Regions from separate parts of the Homo sapiens genome. Here all the other regions are linked to region 1. The links come from fine-mapping of genetic effects on gene expression. A gene starts in region 1. Each other region holds a variant in brackets. All regions are shown on one strand. Distances are from middle to middle.

Region 1 (4,244 bases):
CTTCTATACAGAATGTTGCCTTAGAAGTCTGGGGAATACGGTGCTGGCATCATGGAATCTCTACGGCAAAGCTGTCATCTGTTCTAAATTAAAAGAGAAATCAGCAGGCAGTCCTAGCACCATATGTACCTCTTAATTTTATATCCAGAAGCTTGCCAAGACCAAAAATACACACTATTCAATATTTACATCAGGTCTCTGAGAATCCCATTGCCCATTCTGCACTTAAATGCACTGCATTAATTTGAAGGGAAACCCTGTGGCAGGGAGAATGCTAACCAGATTAAAGTAAGACTGTTTTAAACACCATTTCTCCATTTTTAATGGCGCTTGAAGTGTATTCCTGCAAGGATAAGGTGAAAAGTTGTGGCCTAATGATACCTAACACAATAACTTAATAATTTTTGGGGAAAAGATCATTCAAAATTAATCTCAGTTCCCCCACTTATAAGCACTACCACTTAATAAGCTTCTACCATGTGCAACATAGACAATATAATTCTAGCCCTCCTAGCAAATTCTGCAGTAAAATTCTCAGTTTATAGATGAGCACCTAAGAGAAGTCACATACTTCACACGAGTTTCATGAAAACCATTTCTGCCTTGTTTCCGCCAAACAATGAAGGCAGGGGAGAGGCCTTCTATAAATATTTGCTGGATGCAAGATTCTTTTCAAAATGACAAAATAAGTTTCATATATAAGTCTGGATGCAACACCCTTCACCATTCCTCTCATTCTAAGTGGCTCATTTAAACCTGCAAGGGCGTAATAAACTAATCTGGCTGATTACACACTGACCGCAGAAATTCGCCTTCTCCCGGGAAAACTGCAGTCGAGTGTAGGGAATCGAGATGCTTTGGAGAAGATCGCAGACCTTCCTATCCCATAGGCCAAAAATTTCTAAAAATCAAACAAGAACGCATTCTTAGCCAGTAATAAACTGCCTAGAAGAGGTCTTAAGTTTTATCATCAATTTTTCTTTACGTGCTGTAATTCTCTCTCGGAATACTAACCAGGAGAGAAGTGTTTAAAACCCCAGGGAAGCCAGCTGCTACTCTCAGAACTCGTGCCCTCCTCAGCACAAAGCTTCCCACCGCACAATGACCCCTTGTATCAAGGCCTCTCAGGGCCTAGGGCACAAGGAAATTGAACTCTAACTTGCAAGGCTGCAAAACAAAGCAGTTTCAAGCCAGAGGCCTCCAAACAGTGCAGCCCTAAAAACGGACGCCTGTACTCCTTTTCGAAGAAAGTCTCAGAATTCTTACAGTATTACGCTGCTGGGGAAAACTTCAGCGCGGAGAAGGCCTACGTTTGGAGGAAAAAGAAGCCGGAAGCATACAAAAGAGCAAGTAAGCAGTTCTCCCACGTGGGCCGCAGGCAACAAGCAGAGTCAGAGAGCGGAAGCTGGAGTCCCGCAAGGCACCAGGAGACGGTCACAGAAGCTGCAGGCGCCCGGACACCTCCTGACTCCAGCCGGGTGTCTTTCTTGGAAGAAGAGTGGTTCTCAGGAATGGTGGTGGCATGGGTGCAGCCTCTCCCATCCACGACCTCTCTCTCTAAAGGGGTGCCTACGCCCTACAGGGTGCGGGTGCAGATAAGCCAAAAGGTGGTGTGTGTGTGTGTGTGTGTGTGTGTGTGTGTGTGTGTGTGTGTGTGTGTGTTGGCGGTGCGGCAGGGGGATCATTTGCAAGCGTACCCTCTCCTCGCGCGGCAAGTGAGTCCCGAGTGCCGCGCCCCAGTCCCTCCCCGCGGCGGCAAGGGACGCACGGGCCGGGCGCATGGCCCCCGGAGGCGCGGTCCCCCGGCGCGGGGGCGAGAAGGCATCCGGCAGGGCGAACCGCTGCGGCTGGGAGGGCTCATCTCACCTTCACGGCGGTGGTGGTGGTGCCAGAGGCCATGTCTGCACGGGAAAGGAATCTGCAGTGGGCGAGCGCTCGGGACTAAGGGAACCAAGCGAGCCACAGAGCGGTGGCTGTGCCAACCTCACTGCGCGGGAGTGAGCAGTGCGGAGACCAGGGGCGGGCCTTGACTCCTCCTCTTCCTCCCCGGGACAGCTGGATTGGCTGCTTGTGTGGGATCTCCCCCGCCACCCCTTCCCCAAATCGAAGTTCCCGCGTTCCGCCCCTTTTGCAGACCTTTCCGGTTCTCCAGGTTTTTGTCGTTTTTTTTTTTTTTTTATCCCCAGTTATAACTAACGGATAATGATAATAATGGAGACCATTTATAGAGCGCTGTATTGTTCCAGACTGTGTGTTTTGCACTTTAATTGGCTTACTTAACTTTCGCTAAAACCTTATAAGGAAGAGCAGCACTCCCTGCTTGGCCCAATATTAGTGGCGTCGGAGGCCTCAGCTGCAAAATCTGGCCCGGCGGCATTCCAGAAGTTCTCGCGGGAGGGAGAATCCTCACCAAGGCGGGTACTGGCCGGCCACGGAGATTCTCTTAGGCAGCTAACGCGGGGCGGCCGCCGCGGCGGGGGCAAGATTTGTCCTTCCTGCGGCTGCGAACCCACCGCGGGTTTGCGTATTTCCCTTGATTCCTGGAGGACAGAGCTGGGATGGACTTGACCCAAGACTCAGGGATGACGAAAGGGAAATAAACAGAGTAACGTAGTACTGGATAATCTTTCTGATTTACGAACTATGATTTACTCATCTTCAATTTGAGGGGCCGCTTTTAGGGGGTTGAGACCTTGCACAACTCCCAGTCTGGCTCTACCTGGCTGGGGGCATCTTTAACCCGTTCTACGCCGGAGCGGCATCGAATACACCTGGATTCAGAATCCAAACTCAGGTCTCCGTCATTCAACACTAGCAGGACGCACACACACACACACCACGAGCCCTTTACAGGGATAATCCCTCATGCTTACAGCCCCCGTCCCTTCCCTACTGGGGTAATCCAATTTAACCTTCCTTGATGGATTAAGCGTTCTGAAACAAAATAATGGGTGGCAAGGATCTTAAGGGTGGACTCTGAGATGTAGAAATGCTGCAAATTAGCCTGGACGTGGGAGGAGGGCCGAGAAAGGGGATGCTTTCCTCTTTCCTTACAGCAGCAAAACACGGAAACAAAACACAAGTACAATTTAATTCAAAATACCACTGTGTGATGTTAGCCTGGATGCTGCTCATAGAACCTATTTACTTAAACAGTATAGACTTTCGTCCTCACATTACTATAAGCTTTAGGTCTAAATTTTCTCACAATGTAAAGTTTTCTTTCTTCTGTTACAATCATCTATTTCTTTTAAGTTATAAAATGCAATGGCAAAAGAAGAATGAAAGTAGAATCCGGGTGCTCCTTTGAGGAATAGGAGACAGGGAATCCTTCGCGGATGAAGACAATGTAGCTTTCTAGGGGCCTTTCTGCCGATTGCTCTATTGAGGAGCAGGAAGCCCACCACTCAGAAGTGAACCATTGAGGGCACAGGGATGCCCTAGGCTTTATGGCCGCTACCTAAGTAGGGGATCCTAGCCAACTTAAGTGACTTGATATGGTTAACAAGTCCAGTTTCTACTCAGCACTGCCTCTCTGCTAAAAGTTAGACGTTGTAACCAAGTTAGATCCTGTAAGCATAAAATACCCCTAGGCATAGGAGTTGGAAACTTGGCGAGGACCAGGCTGGACTTCTGGACTTTTCTACTATAACTTGCAGGTTAGGGCTCAAGCATTTGCTCTTGAAGATGTGATGTCTGTGAAGAGGAAATTCTTCTAAAGTTTGAATTTCATGTAAACTTACATGTGACAAAATATTATTCTACTTTTGATATTTTCTCAACCACTTAAGATTGTAAAAAAGCATTCTCAGTTCAAAGCTGTACAAAAACAGGTGGAGAGCTGGGTTTGGTCGAGGTCTTGGGCCATTGTTTTCCGCTCAGGGTAGTGCCTGAATCAGACGACCCCTTGCTACCCAGACTTGGATAACCCTTGGGCAGTCCTGTGGGACAGTGCTTTCTTTAGTGCAGTATCTTTGAAAAGGTAGGCAGTAATATTTTTGCCTTATTTCCAAATTTTGGGTCATGTTTTTTCTTAACAAGCCCTAAAATAAAAGGAAGACAAAATTTTCAATAATTTTGAATACGCAAAAATTTTCAGTGGTCTCCCTTTTTGATTACTATGTCAACAAGACAAGGAGAGTCGGTCTATTTGTGAACATAGATTTTGCCCTGCCCTTCTGTTCTTATCCTATAAATCCCCCTCTGTTAACCTGTACCCTTGCTTTTCTAAAGATAATTATCAA
Region 2 (4,244 bases), 24 kb before region 1:
GGGATCCTTCTTTTTTTTTGAGATGGAGTTTCACTCTTGTTGCCTAGGCTGGAGTGCAATGGAGCAATCTCGGTTCACTGTAACCTCTGCCTCCTGGGTTCAAGCAATTCTCCTGCCTCAGCCTTCCGAGTAGCTGGGATTACAGGTGCTCACCACACCTGGCTACTTTTTTTTTGTATTTTTAGTAAAGACGGGGTTTCACCATGTTGACCAGGCTGGTCTCGAACTCCTGACCTCAGGTGATCTGCCTGCCTCAGCCTCCCAAAATGTTGGGATTACAGGCGTGAGCCACTGCACCCTGCCAGGGATCCTTCTTTTAACAGATTCTTTCCTCCTGTTGTTGTAAAGTAGTGTCAACTAGTGGACCCTCCAGCCAGTATGCACACACTCTCAATAATGGCACTCAGTTACTGAGAAGGTTAACACATGCAAGATCCCACAAAAGGCACTTATTAGAGACTTTGAACTTCCAAGGAAACATTAAGAGGGCAGGTTATCCATATGTCTCATAAACAGAAAAATAGTAGAAGATCTTAAGGTTACCTGGCTAAGATAGAATGAAACCAGATCTGATGGCAATACCTGTTTTCTTTCTAGTCTCCATCTTCTGACCCAACTGCTTTCTTGAAAGAGCCAGTATGTGAAACATCTACATTTAAGACATGTGAGTAAAAGATCTGGGAAATGCAACAGCGTATAGTCATACTGTTTAAGTAACAGATTAACCCAAGGCTCAGTGCCCAATTCAGACTTTACAGTATCATCTGTAATACTTTATACATCTGGATCATCCTGAATATGGAGTTTTGTATTCCACTCTATTTAGCAATCATATTATAATCATTTTCTTAAACTATTACCTCCAAACACATGGACGTTGACAGCCATTGAGATTTTGATCAAGATGTCTCCAAAACACAAACTCCAGCCTATCTCTCTATTCAAATGACTATGTTCAAGCCCTCAAAAATTACTGACAGAGCAAAGATGGGCCAGGAACTGTTGTGGGTGTTGGTGATATGGTGCAAACTGGGCAGAAAGTGACTTTGATCTCACATGGCTTAGAGGGAAACAGGTCACAAATATATAATGTCAGGTATAAATACATTATAAGGACATAACTTGGGGTGAGAAATATGTAACCATTTTAGTCTAACCCCATTATTTATTAGGTTGAACCACATGAAACTGCTGATATTCAACCATTTCTGACCTACAGAATGGGCAATTTCAAAACAGTTTCATTCCATCAGGAAACAACCAAGAATGCTTCTGATAGACTGGAAATTATAATGAATCCCTGAAAGGCAGAAGCCACAGTGGCCTGGACTGGACAACCCTCTCTCCCATAGCAGAAGCTCTAGGAGCAGGCTGTGAGTACAGTAAGCTCAGAGATAACTGATGGGAGGAGCAGCATGGACTGAGGTGGTAGGCAGGGTGATTGGATGGGGGATTGTGGAAGGATCCCCAAATGATTTAACTCTGCGCTACTCTCCACTCTCCATCCAGCCCAGGAGGCTCCTGTCTTCACCCAGAGCATTCTGAGAGGCAATTATTTCTACCAGGAATAGGGGAGGGGGTGGCCCTAGTACAGCTGCCCCTAATCTTTTTGGCACCGGGGACTGATTTCATGGAAGATAATTTTTCCACAGAGAGGGTCAGAGGGGATGGTTTCAGGATGAAACTCTTCCACCTCAGATCATCAGGCATTAGTTAGATTTTCATAAGGAGTGCACAACACAGATCCCTTCCACGTGCAGTTCACAATTGGGTTCCTGCTCCTATGAGACTCTAATGCTGCTGCTGATCTGACAGGATGGGGAGCTCAGGTGGTAATGCTCGCTCTCGCCCCACGGCTCACCTTCTTCTGTGCAGCCCGGTTCCTAACAAGCCACAGGGGTGGGGGATCCCTGACCTAGAGACCACCACTTTCCCTTGTGATTTCAACTACCTCTAAATGCAGAAAAGGTCCAAAAATTTGGCAGTCTATTATTGTTGTTTTTTTGGGGGGGTAAAGGAACAATATATATTACTTGTGCAGTTAAATAATAATAATAATAATAATAATAATAATAATAATAATAAACAAAACCCCAGCACCTCTGGCACCTGATCGATCGCATTATGAAGGGACAACTGGACATCACATGCCTTC[C/T]GACAGGATGCAGAAGGAAGGATCCTTGCCAAGAATTCAAACCTGGTTCTGATCAGGCCACCAGAACTAAATCCAGTTTATAGCAAACACAGGGGCCGGGAGAAGACACTAAATGACACTTGATACAATTAGTAACATCCAGAATGTGGATAGGCAGTAAAAGGAAAAGGAAAAAAGAAGGTGGAATCTTCCAGACTAGAAGGCTTATTAAGCTTATGTGTGTAATGAGTGGACCCTTATTTGAACAAACCAACTATTAAAAAAAAAGTTCATGAGACAATAGAGAGAACTTCCTAGATATCTAATACTAAGGAAATACTAATTTATACTCTCTTTAAAAAAAAAAAAAAAGAAAATGTTCTCTTGAAGCTAGGAATTAGGAACTTAGAGAGTCCCTGATTATTATTCTTTTGTGTATATGTTTAAAAATTCCCATAATATAAAGAGACAGCCTATAGATAGGAAAAAAATGTTTACAAACCATACCTCGGATAAGGGGTTAATACCCAAAATACGTAAGGAAACTAAATGAAAGAAAGTTCTAAAAACACAACCTGATTAAAAAAATAGGCAAAGGACTTGAATAGACATTCCTCAAAAGAAGACACATAAATGGACAACAGCTGTATGAAAAATGCTCAACATCACTAATCATCAAGAAAATGCAAATAAAAACCACAATAAGATATCACCTCACACCTGAATGGCTTTTTTGCTGTCACCCAGGCTGGAGTGTAGTGGTGCATTCATGAATCATTCTAGCCTTGACCTCCCAGGCTCAAGCGATTCTCCCACCTCAGTCTCTTAAGTATCTGGGACAATGGCTGTATATCAACACACATGGCTAATTTTTGTTTTATTTTTTACAGAGACAAGGTCTCACTATGTTGCCCAAGCTGGTCTCAAACTTCTGGGCTCAAGCAATCCTCTTGCTTCAACCTCTCAAAGTGCTAGGATTACAGGCGTGAACCACTGTGCCAGGCCACAATGGCCATTATCAAAATGACAAAACAAAGTAAGTGTTGATGAGGATGTGACAAAAACAGAACCCTTGTATACTGCTGGTAGGAATATAAATTAATACAGCCATTACTAAAATTCCCCAAAAAACTGAAAATATCAACTACCACATGATCCAAGAATCCCATCTCAGAGTGTATAAGGAAATGAAATTTTACGTCAAGAAAGACATCAGCACTTCCATGGTCCCTGCAGCATTATTCACAATAGCCAAGATATGGAAGCAACATAAACGTCCATCAACAGATGAACAGATAAAGAAAATGTGGGAGAGGCGGTTCCAAGATGGCCTAATAGGAACAGCTCCAGTCTACAGCTCCCAGCATGAGCAATGCAGAAGACAGGTGATTTCTGTATTTCCAACTTAGGTACCGGGTTCATCTCACTGGGGCTTGTCGGACAGTGGGTGCCGGAGAGCGGGTGCAGCCCATCGAGTGTGAGCCAAAGCAGGGTGAGGCATCGCCTCACCTAGGAAGCGTAAGGGGTCAAGGAATTCCCTTTCCTAGCAAAGGGAAGGGGTGACAGACGGCACCTGGAAAATCGGGTCACTGCCACCCTAATACTGTGCTTTTCCAACTGTCTTAGCAAACGGCACACCAGGAGATTATATCCCGTGCATAGCTCGGAGGGTCCCACGCCCACAGAGCCTCGCTTATTGCTAGCACAGCAGCCTGAGATCAAACTGCAAGGCGGCGGCAAGGCTGGGGGATGGGCGCCCACCACTGCTGAGGCTTGAGTAGGTAAACAAAGTGGCTGGGAAGCTCTAACTGGGTGGAGCCCACCACAGCTCAAGGAGGCCTGCCTGCCTCTGTAGACTCCAACTCTGGGGGCAGGGCATAGCCAAACAAAAGGCAGCAGAAACCTCTGCAGACTTAAATGTCCCTGTCTGACAGCTTTGAAGAGAGTAGTGGTTCTCCCAGCACAGAGTTTGAGATCTGAGAATGGACAGACTGCCTCCTCAGGTGGGTCCCTGAACCCCGAGTAGGCTAACTGTGAGGCACCCCCCAGTAGGGCAGACTGACACCTCACACGGCTGGGTACCCCTCTGAGACGAAGCTTCCAGAGGAAC
Region 3 (4,244 bases), 99 kb before region 1:
AATTCTCCTTTGCATATTATCAGTAAAGGATGTTTCTGAGTTGGGCCTGAAGATTTTTAAAAAAAAATCTTTTGTCATATATTTCAGGATAACTTGTTCACGAAAGCCATGGATCGTCGTTTTGCAGCAAGCCTAAGTATGCCTCCCCCAGACTCACTGGCAGCTGGAGTCTAAATATAGTATAGTCCATGTATCCACCTTCTGAAATATCCTGCAATTGAAGTCATCTAACAAAGCAGGCCCCATTCAATGCTACAGAAAGCAGCCGGAAATCCTCCAATCCTCCTTCCTCATTTGTAATCACTATACTTAAGGAGAAGACAACACAGCCTCATTTTCAGATAGCTGCACATTTAGTTGAATTCATCTTTTCCACAATGCCTTTTTATAATGTTTACAATTTACCTTTTAAATTCTTTACATTTTGGTGGGAATTTCAGTTTTTATTTATATAGAAGATAGTTTCATTTTAAAGTAAACAAGCATAATGTGTTGATATTTCTGTTCTTACCTTAATCATTTGCTTTTGTAACTGGTGAATTCAGTTTTGTTTAACAGCCCTTAAAGGTAATAAAAGAGATTTTCTATTCTATCCACACCTCCAGGCATTCTGGGTTCTGTTCTGGTAGATCCAAGAATAACCTAGACCAAGTTAAATTGATCCAAGAAAGTTACATATATGGATGTATTAAAAACCCTGATGAAAACAGTAAATAAATGCAGGATTATAACTACATTATTGGATTGAGAATACTTAGGTCAGAAAGTTCATAAGGGAACAAGTAACAATTTGTAATCTTAATTTAAGTCCCTCTAAGGATTGACTTCACTGGTTATGTAGAAAACTTGAAAGTGGATGGTGTATGGTTATTGTCACATTTGTCATGTTGTTTTGGTTGTGTACCAGTATAACTAGTTTTTATGTTTGGGGAATTCATAGTATTACAGACATGTGCTAAGTGTGGATGATCCATTATAGGAGCTAAAAATACCAGATGCTTACTTTTCCTTCCTCTTTTGCAGGTAGGGCATAGGCATGCGACTTAAGACTCTGAACTAAATGCTACCAGATGGGATCTGACTCATGAGCTACAGGAAACAAGGGTTTGAAGGGACACTAGCTTAGCAGGTGGAAATGGTAGTATCTGTGGAACTGGAGGAAGCTGTTTTATCTCCAGACCAATTCTAAAACATGCTTCAGTGTGTCTTTCCTAGTGGCTTAGCCTTGAGCCTCTACTTCAGTTCTTCCTAGTAGATTTTGTGAGCTATTGCAATATCGTTTAGCGAATTACTCTTTTGCTTGACTCAGCTGGAGATGGCACCTGTTCCTTGCCTGTAGGAACCCAGACTGAAAGCTATTTCTCATACATTCTACTTAGGGATTTCATGTGGACTTAACATGTTGCCTCATTTCTACTTTTGAACACTGTAACATTTGTCATATTTTCCTTTTTGTTATTTCTAGCAGCTAGAAAACTCAAACAAATTTGGAACTTGATCATAGCACACAGAGTAATCTCTACAATCAGTAAAACTAGCTTACTTCTGTTTTTCTTCACTGTTTTAAATTTATTTGTATTGTGATGGCATTGGCTGTAAATAGCCTATGAGAAAATGTCACAAGCTTCTCCAGGCCCATGTGGGTTCCTCATAACCTCATTTCCTCCTTGTGGCAAACCCCTGAGACTCAGTTGTTTTCCTTTGCCCTTATAGCTGCTACTAACCTTTTTTAAAAACTCCATACACCTGGCAAAGGAGGTTGAGGTATCCTCCCTAGTCCTTTATTCCCTTTCTTTGATTCCTAATAAAAGCTCGTTTATAGGTTTTATAGTTAATAATCATATGAAAAACTAGCAAAATGCAAGTAGCCAAGAATCTAAAATGTGGCAATTTTCTGTGCCTGATGTCTGATTCTTTATGAGATAGTCAATCAAAGTGTCATTAGGATTCTGTATCCCTTTTAATTTTCAAGCTTCATTACTTTTCCTCCTGTGCTATTAAACTTAAAATTGTTTTTGTTATGAATACTAAAAAAATTTAAAAGGCTCAACTCTTCAATTTTTTAAACTGGAATTGTATTGGATAGTTTATATTAAGGAGAACTAACATTTTTGTAACATTGAGCCTTTCCATCTATGAAGACCTCTCTTTATTTAGGTTGTCTTTAGTATCTTCTTTTTCTTTTGTCAATGTGTATTTTGGTATTTTCTTTACAAGTTTTGTTTTAGGGATGCCTGTGCAGGTGTGTTACAATGGTAAACTGTATGTCATGGAGTTTGGTATACAGATTATTCCATCACCCAGGTAATAAGCATAGTACCTAAGAGGTAGTTTTTCAATCCTAACTCTCCTCTCACTCTGCATCCTTAGGTGGGCCTTGGCATCAGTTGTTCCCTTCTTTGTGT[T/C]CATGTGTACTCAGTGTTTAGCTTCTACTTATAAGTGAGAATATGAGGTATTTGGTTTTCTGTTCTTGCGTTAGTTTACTTAGGATAATAGTCTCCAGCTACATCCATGCTGCTGCAAAAGACATTATTTTGTTCTTTCTCATGGCTGCATAGTATTGCGTGATGTATATTTACCTCTTTTTCTTTACCCAGTCCACTGTTGATGGGCATCAAGGTTGATTCCATGTCTTTGCTATTGTGAATAGTGCTGTGATGAACATAAGCATGCATGAGTCTTTATGGTTGAACAGTTTATATTCGTTTGGGTATATACCCAGTAATGGGATTGCTGGGTTGAATGGTAGTTTTGTTTTTAAATCCTTTGAGAAATCTCCAAACCGCTTTCCACAGTGGCTGAACTAATTTACATTCCCACCAGCAGTGTATTAGTGTCCCATTTTCCCTGCAATCTCACCAGCTTCTGATATTTTTGGCTTTTTAATAGTAGCCATTCTGACTGGTGTGATATGGTATTTCATTGTGGCTTTGATTTGTATTTGTTTAATTATTAGTGATGTTGAGCATTTTTGTCATATGCTTGTTGGCTGCATGTACATCTTCTTTGGAAAAGTGTCTGTTCATTTCGTTTGCCCATTTTTAAATTTTTTTCCTTGTTAATTTGTTTAAGTTCCTTATAGATTCTGGATATTAGAGTCAGTTGCATAGCTTACAAATATTTTCTCCCATTCTGTAGGTTGTCTGTTTAATCTGTTTATAGTTTCTTTTGCTGTGCAGAAGATCTTTAGTTTAATTAGGTCCCACTTGTCAATTTTTGTTCTTGTTGCAATTGCTTTTGGAGTCTTCCTGATGATATATTTGCCAAGGCCTATGTCTAGAATGGTATTTCCTAGGTTTTCTTCTAGGGTTTTTATAGTTCTAGGTTTTACATTTAAGTGTTTAATGCATCCTGAGTTGATTTTTGTATATGGTATAAGGAAGGGGTCCAGTTTCAGTCTTCTGTATATGGCTAGCCAGTTATCCCAGCACCATTTATTGAATAGGGAGTCCTTTCCCCATTGCTTGTTTTTGTCAACTTTGTCAAAGATCAGATGATTGTAGGTGTGCAGCTTTATTTCTGGGTTCTCTACTCTGTTCCATTGATTTGTGTTTCTGTTTTTGTACCAGTACTGATATGGTTTGGCTCTGTGTTCCCATCCAAATCTCACCTTGAATTGTAATCTGCATAATACCCACGTGTCAAGGGCGGGACCAGGTGGAGATAATTGGATGGGGGTGGTTTCCCCATGTTGTTCTCATGACAATGAGTGAGTCTCACAAGATCTGATGGTTTTATAAGCATCTGGCATGTACCCTGCTTGCACTCACTCTGTCCTGCCACCCTGTAAAGAAGGTGTCTTGCTTCCCGTTCACCTTCCACCATGACTGTAAGTTTCCTGAGGCCTCCCCAGCCATGCTGAACTGTGAGTCAACTGAACCTCTCTCCTTTATAAATTACCCAATCTTGGGCAGTTCTTTCTTTTCCTTCCTTCCTTTCCTTTCCTTCCTTCCCTCCCCTCCTTCCCCTTCCCCTTCCCCTTCTCCTTCCTTCCTTCCATTATTGTACTTTAAGTTATGCGGTACATATGCACAACGTGCAAGTTTGTTACATATGTATACATGTGCCATGTTGGTGTGCTGCACCCGTTAACTTGTCATTTACATTAGGTATATCTTCTAATGCTATCCCTCCCCCCTCCCCCCACCCCACAACAGGCCCCGGTGTGTGATGTTCCCCTTCCTGTGTCCAGGTGTTCTCATTATTCAATTCTCACCTATGAGTGAGAACATGCAGTGTTTGGT

Evidence for each region. PIP is the estimated chance that this variant, and not a neighbour inherited with it, causes the effect. A credible set is the group of variants that fine-mapping cannot tell apart.
Region 2: its variant is the best candidate, but not a certain one, in a credible set for the expression of MTAP in lung (TOPMed, PIP 0.69).
Region 3: its variant is the best candidate, but not a certain one, in a credible set for the expression of MTAP in prefrontal cortex (GTEx, PIP 0.86).

The regions. Positions count from the first base shown.
Region 1 is chr9:21,800,404-21,804,647 of GRCh38, reverse strand. It overlaps MTAP (methylthioadenosine phosphorylase), which reads right to left and starts at 2,012. Exons shown (of 8, transcript NM_002451.4): 1 at 1,867-2,012. The coding sequence starts at 1,899. RefSeq lists enhancers at 1,170-1,379, 1,874-2,502, 2,503-3,133 and a silencer at 1,670-1,829.
Region 2 is chr9:21,824,451-21,828,694 of GRCh38, reverse strand. The region is part of intron 4 of MTAP (methylthioadenosine phosphorylase); the gene reads right to left. Among named protein-coding and RNA genes, the nearest start is that of MTAP, 24 kb to the right of the region's middle. The variant C/T (reference allele first, on the strand shown) is at 2,156.
Region 3 is chr9:21,899,140-21,903,383 of GRCh38, reverse strand. It overlaps a transcript of MTAP not described here. Among named protein-coding and RNA genes, the nearest start is that of CDKN2A-AS1, 66 kb to the left of the region's middle. The variant T/C (reference allele first, on the strand shown) is at 2,406.